Regions from separate parts of the Homo sapiens genome. Here region 1 is linked to region 2. Evidence: fine-mapped expression QTL. Tissue or cell type: thyroid. Region 2 holds a variant in brackets; the other region holds the start of a gene. All regions are shown on one strand. Distances are from middle to middle. Region 1 holds the start of USP48 (ubiquitin specific peptidase 48). Region 2 has its middle 8.7 kb from the start of LDLRAD2.

What was found. PIP is the estimated chance that this variant, and not a neighbour inherited with it, causes the effect.
Region 1: it holds the start of USP48, and the variant in region 2 is fine-mapped to the expression of USP48 in thyroid (GTEx, PIP above 0.99).

What each region holds. Positions count from the first base shown.
Region 1 is chr1:21,777,858-21,786,181 of GRCh38, forward strand. It overlaps USP48 (ubiquitin specific peptidase 48), which reads right to left and starts at 5,292. Exons shown (of 27, transcript NM_032236.8): 1 at 4,967-5,292. The coding sequence starts at 5,100. RefSeq lists enhancers at 3,976-4,025, 4,338-5,109, 4,586-4,685, 5,110-5,880, 5,626-5,675 and silencers at 5,056-5,415, 7,803-7,977.
Region 2 is chr1:21,799,404-21,807,700 of GRCh38, forward strand. No RefSeq gene overlaps it. Among named protein-coding and RNA genes, the nearest start is that of LDLRAD2, 8.7 kb to the right of the region's middle. The variant AT/A (reference allele first, on the strand shown) is at 4,809.

The DNA of each region.
Region 1 (8,324 bases), 22 kb before region 2:
TGGCTCACGCCTGTAATCCTAGCACTTTGGGAGGCTGAGGTGGGCGTATCACAAGGTCAGGAGTTTGAGACCAGCCTGGCCAGCATAGTGAAACCCCGTCTCTACTAAATATACCAAAAAAAAAAAAAAAAAAAAATTAGCTAGGCGTGGCGGTGTGCGCCTGTAGTCCCAGCTACTCGGGAGGCTGAGGCAGGAGAATCGCTTGAACCTGGGAGGCGGAGGTTACAGTGAGCCGAGATGGCATCACTGCACTCCAGCCTGGGTGACAGAGTGAGACTCCGTCTGAAAAAAAAAAACAAAACAAAAACAAGACCAAAAAAAGATCACAACTCAATAACAAAAGGCAACTCAATTTAAAAGCACGCAAAGGATTTAAACAGACATTTCTCAAAAAAGATATATGAATGGCCAATAAGTACACAAAAAGATGTTTAACGTGATTAGTCATCAATGAAACACAAATCAAAACATAAGACACCACTTCGCACCCACTAGGATGGCTAAAAGAAAAAAGGCAGTAACAAGTATAGGGACATAGAGCAATTGGAATCCTCATATACTGCTTGTGAATATGTAAAATAGCGCAGCCACTCTGGAAAGTAACCTGACAATTCCTCAAAATATTAAACACAGACATGGTGGTTCGTGCCTACAGTCCCAGCTACCAGGGAAGCTGGGGCAGGAGTATTGATTGAGCCCAGGAGTTCAAGGACAGCCTACACAACATAGCAAGACCCTCATCTTAAAAAAAAAAAAAAAAAAAAAGCCAAAAAAAGGCCATGAACAGTTTCATTCATGCAATCCAAGCATTTCAGGGGGCCAAGGCAGGAGGATCACTTGAAGCAAGGAGTTCAAGACCAGCTTGGGCACCAAAGTGGGACTCCATTTCCACAAATTTTTTTTTTTTTTTGGAGACGGAGTCTCGTTCTGTCACCCAGGCTGGAGTGCAGTGGCGTATCTCAGCTCACTGCAAGCTCTGCCTCCCGGGTTCGTGCCATTCTCCTGCCTTTGCCTCCCGGGTTTATGCCATTCTCCTGCCCCAGCCTCCCGAGTAGCTGGGACTACAGGCATCCGCCACCATGCCCGGCTAATTTTTTGTATTTTTAGTAGAGACGGAGTTTCACCACGTTAGCCAGGATGGTCTCGATCTCCTGACCTCGTGATCCGCCAGCCTTGGCCTCCCACAGTGCTGAGGTTACAGGCGTGAGCCACCACGCCCAGCAAAAAAATTTTGTTTAATTAGCCTCGTGTTGTGGCATGTGCCTGTAGTGGCAGGAGGCTGAGGCGGGAGGATTGCTTGAGCCCAGGAGTTCAAGGCTGCAGTGAGCCATGATTGCACTGCAATACAGTCTGTGTTACAGAGTGAGACCTCATTAAAAATAAATAAATAAATAAAAGTTAAAAGAGCTGGGTGCGGTGGCTCAAGCCTGTAATCCCAGCACTTTGGGAGGCCGAGGTAGGTGGATCACCTGAGGTCAGGAGTTCAAGACCAGCCTGGCCAACTTGGCGAAACCCAGTCTCTACTAAAAAATACAAAAAATTAGCCGGGTGTGGTGGTGGGCGTCTGTAATCCCAGTGACTCAGAGGCTGAGGCACAAGAATCGCTTGAACCTAGGAGGCAGAGGTTGCAGTGAGCCGAGATGGCGCCACTGCACTCCAGCCTGGGCAACACAGAGAGACTCCGTCTCAAAAAAAAAATAATAATAATAATAAAAAGTTAAAAGTTACCACACAACCCAACAATCCCACTTCTTGCTCTATAACCAAGAGAAATAAAAATAAATGCCCACACAAAAACTACTACACTAATGTTCATAGCAACATTATAATAGCCAAAAAGTAGAAATGACCCAAATGTCTATCAGCAGATGAATGCAAATTAAAAATGTGGTAGATACAGAGATATGATGGCATATTATTGATCAATAAAAGGAAAAGAGGCAACGAGCACATGAAAAGACGCTGAACTCATTAGTCACTAGGAAAATGCAAATCAAAACTACAAAGATGCATCACTTCACACCCAAGTAGGAGGGCCTAACCAGAAAAACAGAAAATAGTACCTGTTTATGAGGATGATGAAGCATTTGAACCCTCATACATCACTGGTGGGAATGTAAATCGGTACAACCACTGTGGAAGTTTCGCGGTTCGGTTAAGTTAAACACAGAATTGACTGTGTATGACCCAGTAATTCCACTCCCAGGTAAAGAACTGAAATCAGATGTTCAGACCAAAACTTGTATGCAAATGTTCAGAGAAGTACTACTCAAAATAAGCAAAAGGTGGAAATAATCAAAATGTCCCTCAACTGATGAATAGATATATAAAATGTGGTATTATCCATAAAATGGAATACTACTCAGCCGTAAGGAATAAAGTAGTGACACATGCGCAGCAGGGATAACCCTTGGAAACATTACGTTAAGTGAAACCAGACACAAATGGCCACGTACTGTATAATTCCATTGCTATGAAATATTAATAGAGAAATCCAGAGACAGAAAGTAGATTAGCAGTTGCCAGGGGCTGGGCGAGGGGGGAAAATGGGAAGTGACTAACAGATGCTCAGTTTCCTTTTAGGATAATGAAAAGTTCTGGAACCAGACAGTGGTGATGGTTGTACAACACTATAAAGGTACTGAAACCCACCGAATTGTGCACTTTAAAATGGTAAACACTGTCATATGTATTTCCCAGGTATTTTTTTAATGAAATGAAGTGCTGAAACATGCTACAACATGGATGACCCTTAAATACATAAGTAAAGGAAATCAGTCACAAAAGTCCACGTATTTTAGGATTCCATTTATATGAAATGTCCAGAATAGGGAAATTTAGAGGCGGAACATACAGGGCATACAGAGCCAAGATAAGATAATTTTTTTTTTTTTTTTTTTTTTGAGACTGAGTCTCGCCCTGTTGCCCAAGCTGGAGTGCAGTGGCGTGATCTCGGCTCACCGCAACCTCCACCTCCCGGGTTCCAGGGTTCTCCTGCCTCAGCCACCCCAGTAGCTGGGATTACAGGCGCCCGCCACCACCCCCGGCTAATTTTTGTATTTTTAGTAGAGACGGGGTTTCACCATGCTGGCCAGGCTGGTCTCGAACTCCTGACCTCGTGATCCGCCCATCTCGGCCTCCCAAAGTGCTGGGATTACAGGCATGAGCCACCGCACCCGGCCTATTCTTTTTTCTTTTAAAATTTTTATTTTAAAAATTTATTTTTTTAAATTTATCCAGCGTCTCACGACGCTGTCTCGAAAAAAAAAAAAGTATCGGCCTGGCGGGCGGTGGCTCACGCCTGTAATGCCAGCACTTTGGGAGGCCAAGGCGGTCAAATTATCTGAGGTCAGGAGTTCGAGACCAGCCTGACCAACATGGAGAAACCCTGTCTCTACTAAAAATACAAAAAATAAAAATAATAAAAAAAAATTAGCCGGGCATGATGGTGCATGCCTGTAATCCCAGCTATTCAGGAGGCTGAGGCAGGAGAATCGCTTGAACCAAGGAGGCAGAGGTTGCAGTGAGCCGAGATCACGCCATTGCACTCTAGCCTGGGCAATAAGAGCGAAACACCGTCTCAATAAATAAATAAATATCAGAAATTGGCCCAGCATGGTGGCTCACGCCTGTAATCCCAGAAGAGGTGGGCAGATCGCTTGAGCCCAGAGCTCGAGACCAGCCTGGCCAACATGGCGAAAACCCGTCTCCACTAAAAATACAAAACTGAGTCGGGCGTGGTGGCCCGTGCCTCTAATCCCAGCTACTCCGGAGGCCGAGGTGGGAGGATCGCTTGAGCCTGGGAAACGGAGGTTGCAGTGAGCCGAGCTCGTGACACTGCACTCCAGCCTGTGTGACAGAGTGAGACCCTGTCTCAAAAACCACCAGAACTATTAGTAGTTTACATTATTTGGTTAGTCTGGAAACTAATTACGTTGAGAAACTGACTGAAGCTTGATTATTTCTATTATACACAGACTTCAAACATTCCAGAACTTACTGTTAAAGTCAGATTTACCCTCCTTGTGAGACAGACGCCCAGAGCTTGGACTTATTCGTTTGCTTTATAGAAACTCCCTAACTTATTTCACTTCTCATACTAGACTTTAAGCTCCAAAGCCAGAGACCATGACTTCCATTCCTTCCGGATCCCCCAGCGGAATGTAAAAACTCCAGAAAGCATTTCCTAAATGCCTGCCGAAAGACGGCTACTGAGCATGCCCGGCTTGGCCAAGTCAATTTCAACAACATTCTGAAACAAAAACTATAGTTCCCGCGTTACAAGGTGGAAAAAAGGGAATAAACGGGAGCAAAGCCTAAGGATTCAATCTATATGAGGGGGTTAAGGAAAGGTAAAGTTCAAGGGCGGCGCAGACGTGAAGGACAGCACTATCACAGCTTAAACTTGGTACTCGGTAAACTGGTGTCGAACCAGAACGACCAAAGAAAGGCTTAAAAAAAATACTAGATTAACGAGTGAGGGAAGGCCAACGGGGGTGCAGGGTATCGATGACGTAGGCTGACCACAGTTTTTTCTAAAGCTGCCCTCTACAAAAATAATACTAAGATGATCAGGCCTTCGGTGTCAACACCAACAAGATACACTGTGATGAAGCTCACTTCCAAAAAGTTCCTTTTTACAAACGAAAGAGCCGTGCTGTGGCCAAGATACCCCAACCATCAACGCTTGCTAAGCTCTCAGCTCCTGCCTTCATCTCCACCGCCATCTTCTGGATGGGAACCCAAACCTTCCTAAAGTGCTTTGGCCAGCATCACCTCCGCGCACAGCCCGGGAAGCCTGCGTTTCCCAGGTCGCGCAGACGGCGCAAAGGGGGAAACTCCACCTCGCTCGGCTCCGCGCCTCCCAAATGCACGCAAAGGGCTGCCGTCTTCCTTTCCCCTACCCCGCCCGGGCTTTCCAAGGTCCGGCGCGAGGAGCCCGCGAGGCGCGGTGCGCGGGCCTCACCTGCACACGCCGCGAATGCAGGGCTCCAGCCAGATGCGGTAAGCGGTCTCGATGTGCTCCTGCGACACCTCCTCGGGCCGCACCGTCTCCGCCCAGCGCCAGGCCGCCTTCTCCAGCTGCAGCCGCGGGGCCATGGCCTTGGCCCCAGGAACGCCTCCCGAGCCAGACCGCCGCAGCCGCCGCCGCGGTCTGCACCGCCGCCCCAATGGGCTTCGCCACCTGCCAGCAAGGAGGACCTGGCGCTCCTTCAGGCAGCTGGCCAGTCAATCACCTGTGCGCGCCACTGCCGCCGCGCCCGCCCGCGCCCGACCCGCACGACCGGCCGCAAAGCGCCGCCGTCGACACCCGACACACCCCGCGCCCGCGGACGTTAAAGGTGGACTCCCCGCCGCGCTGAGCGCATGCGCGTTCCCAGCAGCCTCTGCGCCTCCCGCGCCCCTAACCCGACGGGCTGAGGTAGAGGAAGCGTACGTCCGAGGCGGTCTTGCCACGTCCTCACTGGCACTTCTGGAAAAGCAGCGTCTCAGCCCCCGTTCAGGGCGGCGCACTACGTACCACTACTCTAACAAACCAGTGCCTCGAAAGCTATTTCTTGCCTCCGGTACTTCCCTTTTAACCATGAAGTTTTCACGCTAGAGGCTACTCAACGCACACACAGGCCCGCCCAGACTGTGGAGCGGGACCTGTTTAGAGTAGAAACCGAGTCGCCAAAGAAACCAGTGTTGGCTCTTTAGAGGGAGATTTAACTTGAGCCTAGACCGGTTCCGAACCCCTTTCCCGAGCCCTCCTGACGTCATGGGACCTTCCGGCCTTTTCCCGTGCTAGGGTGGGACTACGTGTCCCGGCATGCCCTGCGTCCTGCCACTGACTGTGAGGCATGCTGGGATTTGTAGTCTTCGAGGTGGGAGTGCTCAGTGCGCCGCAGACTGTGCGGGCGGGGGTCCGAGGTGCCAGGGTGGAGTTTCTCTGGTGCGCAAGGTCATGTTTGCTGTTGGCTCCCTTCTCAAGACTGTTACCTCTATGCCAGGATTTTCTAGTTCCTCTCTAGCTCCTGGTTTAAAACATTTCCTTTCTGCGACTCCTGCCCCAGGACATAAAGAGTAGCTTTATGAGAATTGTTTTGCAAACTGTAAAGAACTCTACTAAAGTGAGGATATTTAAGAATTTTGAATTTGAATTAGAGCTCTGCCAGAATCTAAGCGCTAACTTCTGACTCAGCTGCTTGCCTGCTGGAAAACCTTAGGCTGAATTCTTTAGATAAACATTCACTGGGCCGAGCACCGTGGCTCAAGGATCCAATCCCAGCACTTTGGGAGGCCGAGGTGGGCGGATCACCTGAGGTCAGGAGTTCGAGGCCAGCCTGACCAAAATGGAGAAACCCCGTCTCTACTAAAAATACAAAATTAGCAAGGCGCGGTCGCGCATGCCTGTAATCCCAGCTAGTCGGGAGGCAGAGGCAGGAGAATCGCTTGAACCCGGGAGGCGGAGGTTGTGGTTAGCCGAGATAACGCCATTGCACTCCAGCCTGGGCAACAAGAGTAAAACTCCGTCTCAAAAAAAACAAAAAAATTCGCTGAAGGCAGAAGAAAGTAAGATGTGGTCCCTGCCCTTGGAAGTGGGTTAGGGAGTGAGCGGTAGAAATACAAAGATCCCCATCCCAGTCTTGGGAGGCTTCGGGGTACTTGAGAAAAGGCTTCCCAGAAGTAATTCCGAAGCCCGCTTTTAACGGGTGAGTTGGACTTATCCAGGATAGAAGAAAGACACCATTCCAGAAAAAAAGAAACCACAAGGAGCAAAGGCACAGAAGAGAAAAGCTTGGCGTGAGAGGGCCACAATTTCTGAGACAGGGACAGGTGAGAGTTATGGCTTGAAAGGAAGACCTTGCCGCCGGGCGCGGTGGCTCACGCCTGTAATCCCAGCACTTTGGGAGGCCAAGGCGGGCGGATCACGAGATCAGGAGATCGAGACCATCCTGGCTAACACGGTGAAACCCCCTCTCTACTAAAAATACAAAAAAAATAGCCGGGCGTAGTGGCGGGCGCCTGTAGTCCCAGCTACTCTGGAGGCTGAGGCAGGAGAAGGGCGGGAACCCAGGAGGCGGAGCTTACAGTGAGCGGAGATCGCGCCACTGCCCTCCGGCCTGGGCGACTGAGCGAGACTCTGTCTCCAAAAAAAAAACAAAAACAAAACAAAACAACAATAACAACAACAATAAAACAACAATAACAACAAAAAAAAAAACAAAAAAAGGAAGACCTTTATTCAAAGTACCCACTGAAGATATACAGCTGTTGAGTGCTATAATGGAGATTTGCATTTTGTATAGTGAGGCAGAGAAGACTTTTTTTTTTCCTGAGACGGAGTTTTGCTCTTGTTGCCCAGGCTGGAGTGCAATGGTGTGGTCTGGGCTCACTGCAACCTCCGCCTCCTGGGTTCAAGCGATTCTCCTGCCTCAACCTCCCAAGTAGCTAGGATTACAGGCTTTTGCCACCACGCCCGCCTAATTTTTTTGTATTTTTTAGTAGAGACGGGGTTTCACTATGTTGGTCAGGCTGGTCTCGAACTCCGGACTTCAGGTGATCCGCCCACCTCGGCCTCTCAAAGTGCTGGGATTACAGGTGTGAGCTACCGCGCCTGGCCTCCTCCCCTTTTTAGACCATATAGGGTAACTTCCTGACTTTGCCATGGCATTTGTAACCTGTCATGCACTGGTGGGCATGTCTTTTAGCATGCTAATGTATAATAATTAGCGTATAATAATTAGCATATAATAAGCAGTGAGGACGACCAGAGGTCAGTCTCATGGCCATCTTGGTTTTGGTGGGTTTTAACCAGCTTCTTTACTGCATTCTGTTTTCTCAGCAATGTCTTTATGACCTGTATCTTGTGTAGACCTCCTATCTCATCCTGTGTCTAAGAATGCCTTAGGCCAGGCATGGTGGCTCATGCCTGTAATCCCAGCACTTTAGGAGGCCAAGGTGGGCGGATCACGAGGTCAGGAGTTCGAGATGAGCCTGGCCAACATAGTGAAACCCTGGGTCTACTAAAAATACAAAAATTAGCCAGGCATGGTGGCGGGCACCTGTAATCCCAGCTACTCAGGAGGCTGAGGCAGGACAATTGCTTGAACAGGAGGCGGAGGTTACAGTGAGCCAAGATCGTGGCATTGCACTCCATCCCAGGCGACGGTGGGAAACTCAGGCAAAAAAAATGTCTTCACCTCCTGGGAATGCAGCCCAGTAGGTCTCAGCCTTATTTTACCCAGCCCCCATTCAAGATAGAGTCACTCTGGTTCAAACGCCTTGGACAGAATGAGGACTTGCTACAGCTTGATGATGTTGACCTGACCGGTATATCT
Region 2 (8,297 bases):
TTAGCTACCACCCATGGATCAGACTGGGATGTTCCTTCTGTAAGTTATGACTTATCGGCAATTGCATTGTTTTTTTTTTTAATATATTTTTTTGAGACGGAGTCTCCCTCTGTTGCTCAGGCTGGAGTGCAGTGGCATGATCTCGGCTCATTGCAACCTCTGCCTCCCAGGCTCAGGCGATTTTCCTGCCTTGGCCTCCTGAGTAGCTGGGATTACAGGTGCCCGCCACTACACCCATCTAATTTTTGTATTTTTAGTAGAGAAGTGGTTTCACCTTGTTGGCCAGGCGGGTCTTGAACTCCTGACCTCAGGTGATCTGCCCACCTCTGCCTCCCAAAGTGCTGGGATTACACGTGTGAGCCACCGTGACCAGCCTCATTGATTGTAATTCATTATACTGGGATGACTTTTCTGGCCCTCCACCTGCCAGGGTGTCACCTGTGATGAATTTAGGGCTGCTGCTGCTTTCTGCTTGATTCCTGTGGTATGAGTGAGGCATTCACATCCACGAACCACGCACATCACCTGTGCCCCAGTGCCAGCTCAGACAGGAGGAAGCTGCTGTCTCTAGGGGTGGTGGTCAAGGTGTTTCCTATTCTCTCTGCTCACAGAGCAAGTCTAGCAACAGCTAAGACACTACCTCCTCATGCACTTTTTTTTTTTTTTTTTTTTTGAGACAGGGTCTGCTGGCTCTGTCCCCCAGGTGTAAGTGCAATGGCGCAATCTCGGCTCACTGCAACCTCTGCCTCCCAGGCTCAAGCAATCCTCCCACCTCAGCCTCTTGAGTAGCTAGGACTACAGGTGCATGCCACCACACCTGGCTAATTTTTTTCTTTTTTCTTTTTTCAGACGGAGTCTCGCTCTGTTGCCCAGACTGGAGTGCAGTGGTGTGATCTCGGCTCCCTACCAGCTCCGCCTCCCAGGTTCACGCCATTCTCCTGCCTCAGCCTCCTGAATAGCTGGGACTACAGGCGTCTGCCACCACGCCCGGCTAATTTTTTGTATTTTTAGTAGAGATAGGGTTTCACCGTGTTAGCCAGGATGGTCTCGATCTCCTGACCTCGTGATCTGCCCACTTCGGCCTCCCAAAGTGCTAGAATTACAAGCGTGAGCCACTGCGCCTGGACTAATTTTTTTCTTTTTTTGTAGAGATGAGTTTTCACCACGTTGCCCAGGCTAGTCTCAAACTCCTGAGTTCAAGCAATCCACCCACCTCAGTATCTCAAAGTGCTGGGATTACAGAACTGAGCCATCGCACCTGGCCTCTCATGCACCTTTGATGTATCATTGGGACCCTGCATTGTCCTTTCCATTATGTTCCATTTCCATTCTAGGTGGGTAATACTTGGGCTACTCCCTTTGTCTGATCAGAACTGAGTCTAGCTCATGTTAGGATGAGTAGCTTTGTTCTTATTTTGGGGCTACCAATAGTTCCTCTGCATCCTGTAATGCAAGGATGTCACCAGTGCCCTTTTTCTCTGTGGGGCTAGTTTTATTTATTTATTTATTTATTTATTTCTGCTCTTATTGCCCAGGCTGGAGTGCAATGGTGTGGTCTTGGCTCACTGCAACCTCCACCTCCCCGGTTCAAGTGATTCTCCTGCCTCAGCCTCCTAAGTAGCTTGGATTACAGGCAACTGCCACCATGCCCAGCTAATTTTTGTATCTTTAATAGAGACGGCGTTTCACCATGTTGGCCAGGCCGTTGTCGAACTCTTGACCTCAAGTGATCCGCCTGCCTCGCCCTCCCAAAATGCTGGGATTACAGGTGTGAGCCACCACACATGGCCAGGGGCTAGTTTTCTGTATCAGAAATTTCTGTGTCCAGTAGACTGACAAAGAAATGATCCCATGCCTAACCTTCAAAATCTGACTCAGAGTGACCAATCAGCATGTTCATGAGTCATTGAAATCTTTGTTTACATTATTAGTATAGGTGCTCAGGGTAAAATGTCTTGCTACCCAATTCAGTTCATTGAAGGATATCTGATCCTCAAGGAAATTTGTGGATTTTTTTCCTGGTGACTTGATACATTGTAAAACAATATTCAGCTTAGTATAAGTTTTCTCTAATAGCCAAATAATCTCATTAATTGTAGAAGCTTTTTCTTTTTCTTTTCTTGAGACAGAGTCTCGATCTGTCACCCAGGCTGGAGTGCAGTGCTGCGATCTTGACTCATTGCAACCTCTGCCTCTTGGGTTCAAGAGATTCTCCTGCCTCAGCCTCCCAAGTAGCTAGGATTACAGGCGTGTGCCACCATGCCTGGCTAATTTGTGTATTTTTAGTAGAGACGGAGTTTCACCGTGTTGGTCAGGCCTGTCTCGAACTCCTGACCTCAGGTGATCCGCCCGCCTCGGCCTCCCAAAGTGCTGGGATTACAGGCGTGAGCCACCGCACCCAGCCTTTTTGGTAGAGACAGGGTCTCACCATGTTGCCTAGACTGGTCTCAAACTGGAACTCAAGTGATCCTCCTGCCTTGGCCTCCCAAAGTGCTGGGATTATGTGCATAAGCTACAGCACCTGACCCCTTTCTGTGATTTCTAATGTGTTAGATAAGAGCTCACTACATTTTTTGTACATTTATTTTATTTTGCACGTTATATTTGTATTTTTTGTTGTCTGTTGTCAATTTTCATTTTCCTTCTGGCCACACTAGTGACTTGTAGGGACGTAGGTTTGCCTAATGATGCCTTCTTTTTCTAATCTAGTAAAAATGTCTGTGATCTCATTATTTCATCCTTGAATTATGTATTGTGAGGGGATTAACAACCTCTGTCAGTATATGGCCGTCATGTAGTGGCCATACACCTGTAATCCCAGCACTTTGGGAGGCCAAGACTGGCGGATCATTTGAAGCCAGGAGTTTGAGACCAGCCTGGCCAACATGGTGAAACCCCATCTCTACTAAAAACACAAAAATAGCAGGGCATGGTGGCGCACGCCTGCAATCGCAGCTACTCGGGAGGCGGAGGAGGCAGAATTGCTTGAACCTGGGAGGCGGAGGCTGCAGTGAGCCAAGATCATGCCACTGCACTCCAGCCTGGGTGACAGAGTGAGACTCTGTCTCAAAAAACCCAAAAAACCAGAAAAATATGGGTAACAGAAAGGGAAGAACTCTCTCCCCACGTGACTCAATATTGAGAAAACTTACTTGACATGGTTGTCATGGATTTGGAAGTGAGATGGCCTCTGAGTTCAAATCCTGGCTGTGTCCCTTCCACTGTGGCTGAAGCTTAACACTTGATTGGCGTGTGTGGGATATGAGCCCAGTGTAGCCAGAAGAAGGTACTTTCTCCGGTTGCTGCATAAAAGCCAGCAAAGGCAGGCTGTCCCCGGCCTTCTAGGCTTTGTGTGTGATTCTCCTTCTGCCTGGAACACTGTTGCTTCCCCATTTCCTACTTACATAATATTTCTGCATTTAACATCTTTGTGCCTCAGCTTCTTCCTCTGCAAAATGGAGATGATAAGAGTACCCACTTTATGGCACTACTGTGAAGAATAAATCAGCTTAAATTAGCCGTCCGGGCAAGGTGCCTAAAGCCTATAATCCCAGCACTTTGGGAGGCCAAACTGGGAGGATCGCTTGAGCCTAGGAGTTCAAGGCCAGCCTGGGCAACGTGGCGAAACCCCATCTCTACAAAAAATACAAAAAAATTAGCCGGGTATGGTGGTGCATGCCTGTTGTCCCAGTTACTTGAGAGGCTGAGGTGGGAGGATCACCTGAACCCAGGAAGTAGAGGCTGCAGTGAGCTGTAATCGCGTCACAGCAATGTAGCCTGGGCAACAGAGCAAGACCCTGTCTCAAAAACCATATAAAGAGCTGACCAACATGGTGAAACTCCGTCTCTACTAAAAATACAAAAAAAAAATTAGCTGGGCATTGTGGTGCATGATTGTAATCCCAGCTACTTGGGAGCCTGAGGGAGAATTGCTTGAACCTGGGAGGTGGAGGTTGCAGTGAGCCGAGATCGTGCCACTGCACTCCAGCCCGGGCAGCAGAGTAAGACTCTGTCTAAAAAAAAAAAAATACACACACACACACACACACACACACACACACACACACACACACACACGTATATATGCCAATACATGAAAGCAATCTTTTTTTTCTTTTTTTGAGACGGAGTCTTGCTCTGTTGCCCAGGCTTGAGTGCAGTGGCGCGATCTCGGCTCAGTGCAAGCTCCGCCTCCCAGGTTCACGCCATTCTCCTGCCTCAGCCTCCCAAGTAGCTGGAACTACAGGTGCCCGCCACCATGCCTGGCTAATTTTTAGTATTTTTTTAGTAGAGACGGGGTTTCACCATGTTAGCCAGGATGGTCTCGATCTCCTGACCTCGTGATCCACCCGCCTTGGCCTCCCAAAGTGCTGGGATTACAAGCATGAGCCCTCGCGCCCAGCGGAAAAAGCCAAAGTCTTTACAATGACCTCTAGGGCTTGACATTATCTGACTCATCTTTTATCACTCTTTGCATCTCTGCCTTCGTTCCGCATGTATTGCTTGTGCCAGGCACATTCCTGCCTCAGGGCCTTTGCACTTGCTATTGCCTCTGCCTAGAATGTTCTTTCTCCAAATAACTGCATGACTGGTCCCCTGGCTTCTTTCTGGTCTCTACTCAAAAGGCCCCTCTCAGTGTGACATTCCCTGGCTATCCTATCAAAATGTCAACACCCCTCTGACATGCCTGCCAACCATGCTTTGTGTATTTTCTCCTTTGTATTTATTACTATTCCATATATCAAACATCTTACTCATTTATCCTCCACTGGAATGTAAGTTCTAAAACATTAGAAAAATTTTATTTT[AT/A]TTTTTTCAAGGTCTCGCTCTGTCACTCAGGCTGGAGTTCAGTGGCACAATCATAGCTCACTGCAGCCTTGAACTTCTGAGTTTAAGCAGTCCTCCTACCTTGCCCTTCCAAAGTGCTGGGATTATAGACATGAGCCGCAATGTCTGGCCCAGAAATTTTGTTTATTTTGTTCCCTGAAATTTCTTCAGTGCTTAAAACAGAGGTTAGTAAAATTTGAAAAATGAATGCATACGTATTTTTTTCCATTTTAATCTTCCCAGTAAGATACTTCAGTATTGTCTCCATTTTGTAGATTAAAAACCTGAGGCACAGAGCGATCAGGTCACTTGCCTAAGGGTCATACGGCTGGGAAGTGTGGCTCAGGGGAAGACTCTACCCCCTTACCTCAGATTTCTTATCATTTAAATGAGGTTTCCAAAAGAATGCCCTCTTTGCAGGGTCATTGAGACATATTGTGAAGATTATGTGTGATAGAGCATATGACAAACTTAAAGCCAGTGCTTGGCATGCTGTAATCACTCAAGAAGTAGTCTCTGGCTGAGTGAGGTGGCACATGCCTGTAATTCCAGCTACTTGGGAGGCTGAGGTGGGAAGATCAGCCAATCTTGGGAGGCAGAGGTTGTAGTGAGCTAAGATCGCACCACTGCACTACAGCCTGGTTAACAGAGTGAGACTCCATCTCAAAAACAAAACAAAACAAAACAAAACCAAAAAAAAAAACAGAAGTAGTCTCTAGAAATACGAAAGGATGTACGAGGTGTTTGTCCCTAGTCATTAAAGGTAGGAATATTTCAGCACAGAGGCTGATCAAGGGGCCAGGAAGTTACTAGTATTGTTTTTGTTTTTGTTTTTGAGACAGAGTCTCACTCTGTTGCCCAGGTTGGGGTAGAGTGGTGTGATCTCAGCTCACTGCAACCTCCACCTCCCGGGTTCAAGCAATTCTCTGCCTCAGCCTCCCGAGTAGCTGGGATTAAAGGCAACCACCACCACACCTGGCTAATTTTTGTATTTTTAGTAGAGACGGGGTTTCACCATCTTGGCCAGGCTGGTCTTGAACTCCTGACCTCGTGATCCACCCGCCTCGGCCTCCCAAAGTGCTGGGATTATAGGTGTGAGCCACCGCGCCCGGCCTTGTTTTGTTTTTGAGACAAAGTCTCCCTCTATTGCCCAGGCTGGAGTACAGTGGCATGATCTTGGCTCACTTGGCCTATTGTCGTTAATATTGTTGTCGTTTCTATCACTTTTCTGTGCAGCAGGGTTTAGCCATACCAACCTGTTCCCAGAATGAGCTCCTCTGTGACCATGACACATACTGGGTCCTCTGCTTGGAATGCATTTAGCGTAGTTTCTGCACGGAAACTCATATGCATCCTTCATGGCCCAACTCAAAAATCTCCTCTGGGAAGCTTCTCCTGACTTCCTGAGGTATGTCACATTCCTGTTATAGTTAGGGTTGCAATTTATTTATTGATTTGTTTTTTGTTTGTTTGTTTAATCTGAAGCCCCTACCAGTCTCTGAGGTCCTGGAGGGCCACATTTTGTGGGTCCTGAAGCAGAAACAATTTGGGGGCCCTCTTTAAAATATGAAATTATTAACACAAAATCAGGTTTGAGGCCAGATGTGCTGGCTCATGCCTGTAATCCCAACACTTTGGGAGGCTGAGACGGGTGGATCACCTGAGGTCAGGAGTTCGAGACCAGCCTGGCCAATATGGTGAAACCCCGTCTCTACAAAAAATACAAAAATTAACTGGGTGTGGTGATGTGCACCTGTAGTCCCAGCTACTTGGGAGGCTGAGACAGGAAAATTCGTTGAACCTGGGAGGCAGAGGCTGCAGTGAGCCGAGATTGTGCCACTACACTCCAGCCTGGGCAACAGAGCGAGATTCCATCTCAAAAAAAAAAAAAACAAAAACCTGGTTTGAAAGTGAATATTTATTTAGAATGAGAAAAAATCCCAACAAGTTTTGAAATGTAAAAAACGGACAAATAAGACAAAAAATAAAATCCAAAATAATAACAAACTTTTATTAACTGCTTAACATTCTTCTATAATACTTTTTTTTTTTTTTAAATAGAGACAGGGTCTCACAATGCTACCCAGACTGAGCTCAAACTCCTGGGCGCAAGCAATCCTCCCACCTCAACTTCCCAAAGCACTGAGATTGCAGGTGTGAGCCTCAGCACCTGGCCTTTTTTGCTTACTTTTTTTTTTTGGCTGCACACTTTTTGATTCTTTATGTGACAGCAACTGTATGGTATTTTCTCTATTTTTTTTTTTGCTAGATGGAGTCTTGCTCTGTTGCCCAGGGTGGAGTGCAGTGGAACGATCATAGCTCACTGCAGCCTTGAGCTCCTGGGCTCAAGCAACCTTCCTGCTGCAGCCTCCCAAGGAGCTGGGACTACAGATGCATACCACCACGCTTGGTTAATTTTTATGTTTTTTGTAGAGATGGGGTTTGGTCACTCTGTTGCCCAGGTTGGTCCCGAACTCCCAGCCTCAAGCGATCCTCCCACTTCCACCTCCCAAAGTGCTGGGATTACAAGCATGAACCACTGTGCCTGGGCAGTAGGATTGTTTTTGTTTTTGTTTTTGAGAGCGAGTCTTGCCCTGTTGCTCAGGCTGGAGTGCAATGGCGTGATCTCGGCTCACTGCAGCTTCCGTCTCCTGGGTTCAAACGATTCTCCTGCCTCAGCTTCCCGAGTTGCTGGGATTACAGGCACCTGCCACCACACCCAGATATTTTTTTTGTATTTTTAGTAGAGACAGGGTTTCATCGTGTTGGCCAGGCTGGTTTCAAACTCCTGACCTCGTGATCCGCTCGCCTTGGCCTCCCAAAGTGCTGGGATTATAGGTGTTAGCCACCGCGCCTGGCCAGGATATTTTTATAGCAGGACTGGAAAGATAATTCAGTCTTTCCTCTGCCATGATTGATCAAAATTAGTTTTTTTGTGTGTTTTTGTTTTTGTTTTTTTTTGTTTTTTGAGACGGAGTCTCGCTCTGTCGCCCAGGCTGGAGTGCAGTGGCGCGATCTTGGCTCACTGCAAGTTCTGCCTCCCAGGCTCACGCCATTCTCCTGCCTCAGCCTTCTGAGTAGCTGGGACTACAGGCGCCCGCCACCACACCTGGAGAATTTTTTTTATTTTTAGTGGAGACAGGGTTTCACCGTGTTAGCCAGGATGATCTCGATCTCCTGACCTCGTGATCCGCCCGCCTCGGCCTCTCATAGTACTGGGATTACAGGCGTGAGCCACTGTGCCCAGCCCAAAATTAGTTTTTTATTAGTGATAGTTTAGGAATTTTTTTCCTTCAGTTTTGTAATTCATTGTTGGTAAGATTATTTAACTCAATGATTGTTGTTAAATTTGGAGCAACTGCTATAAAATATCTTACTCATGTGAGCTGTGTATTTGGAAGGATTTTCCACACACTATTTCTGACTTCGTGCATTTCAAATTTTATTTCTTTTACAATGCCCTTGTACTC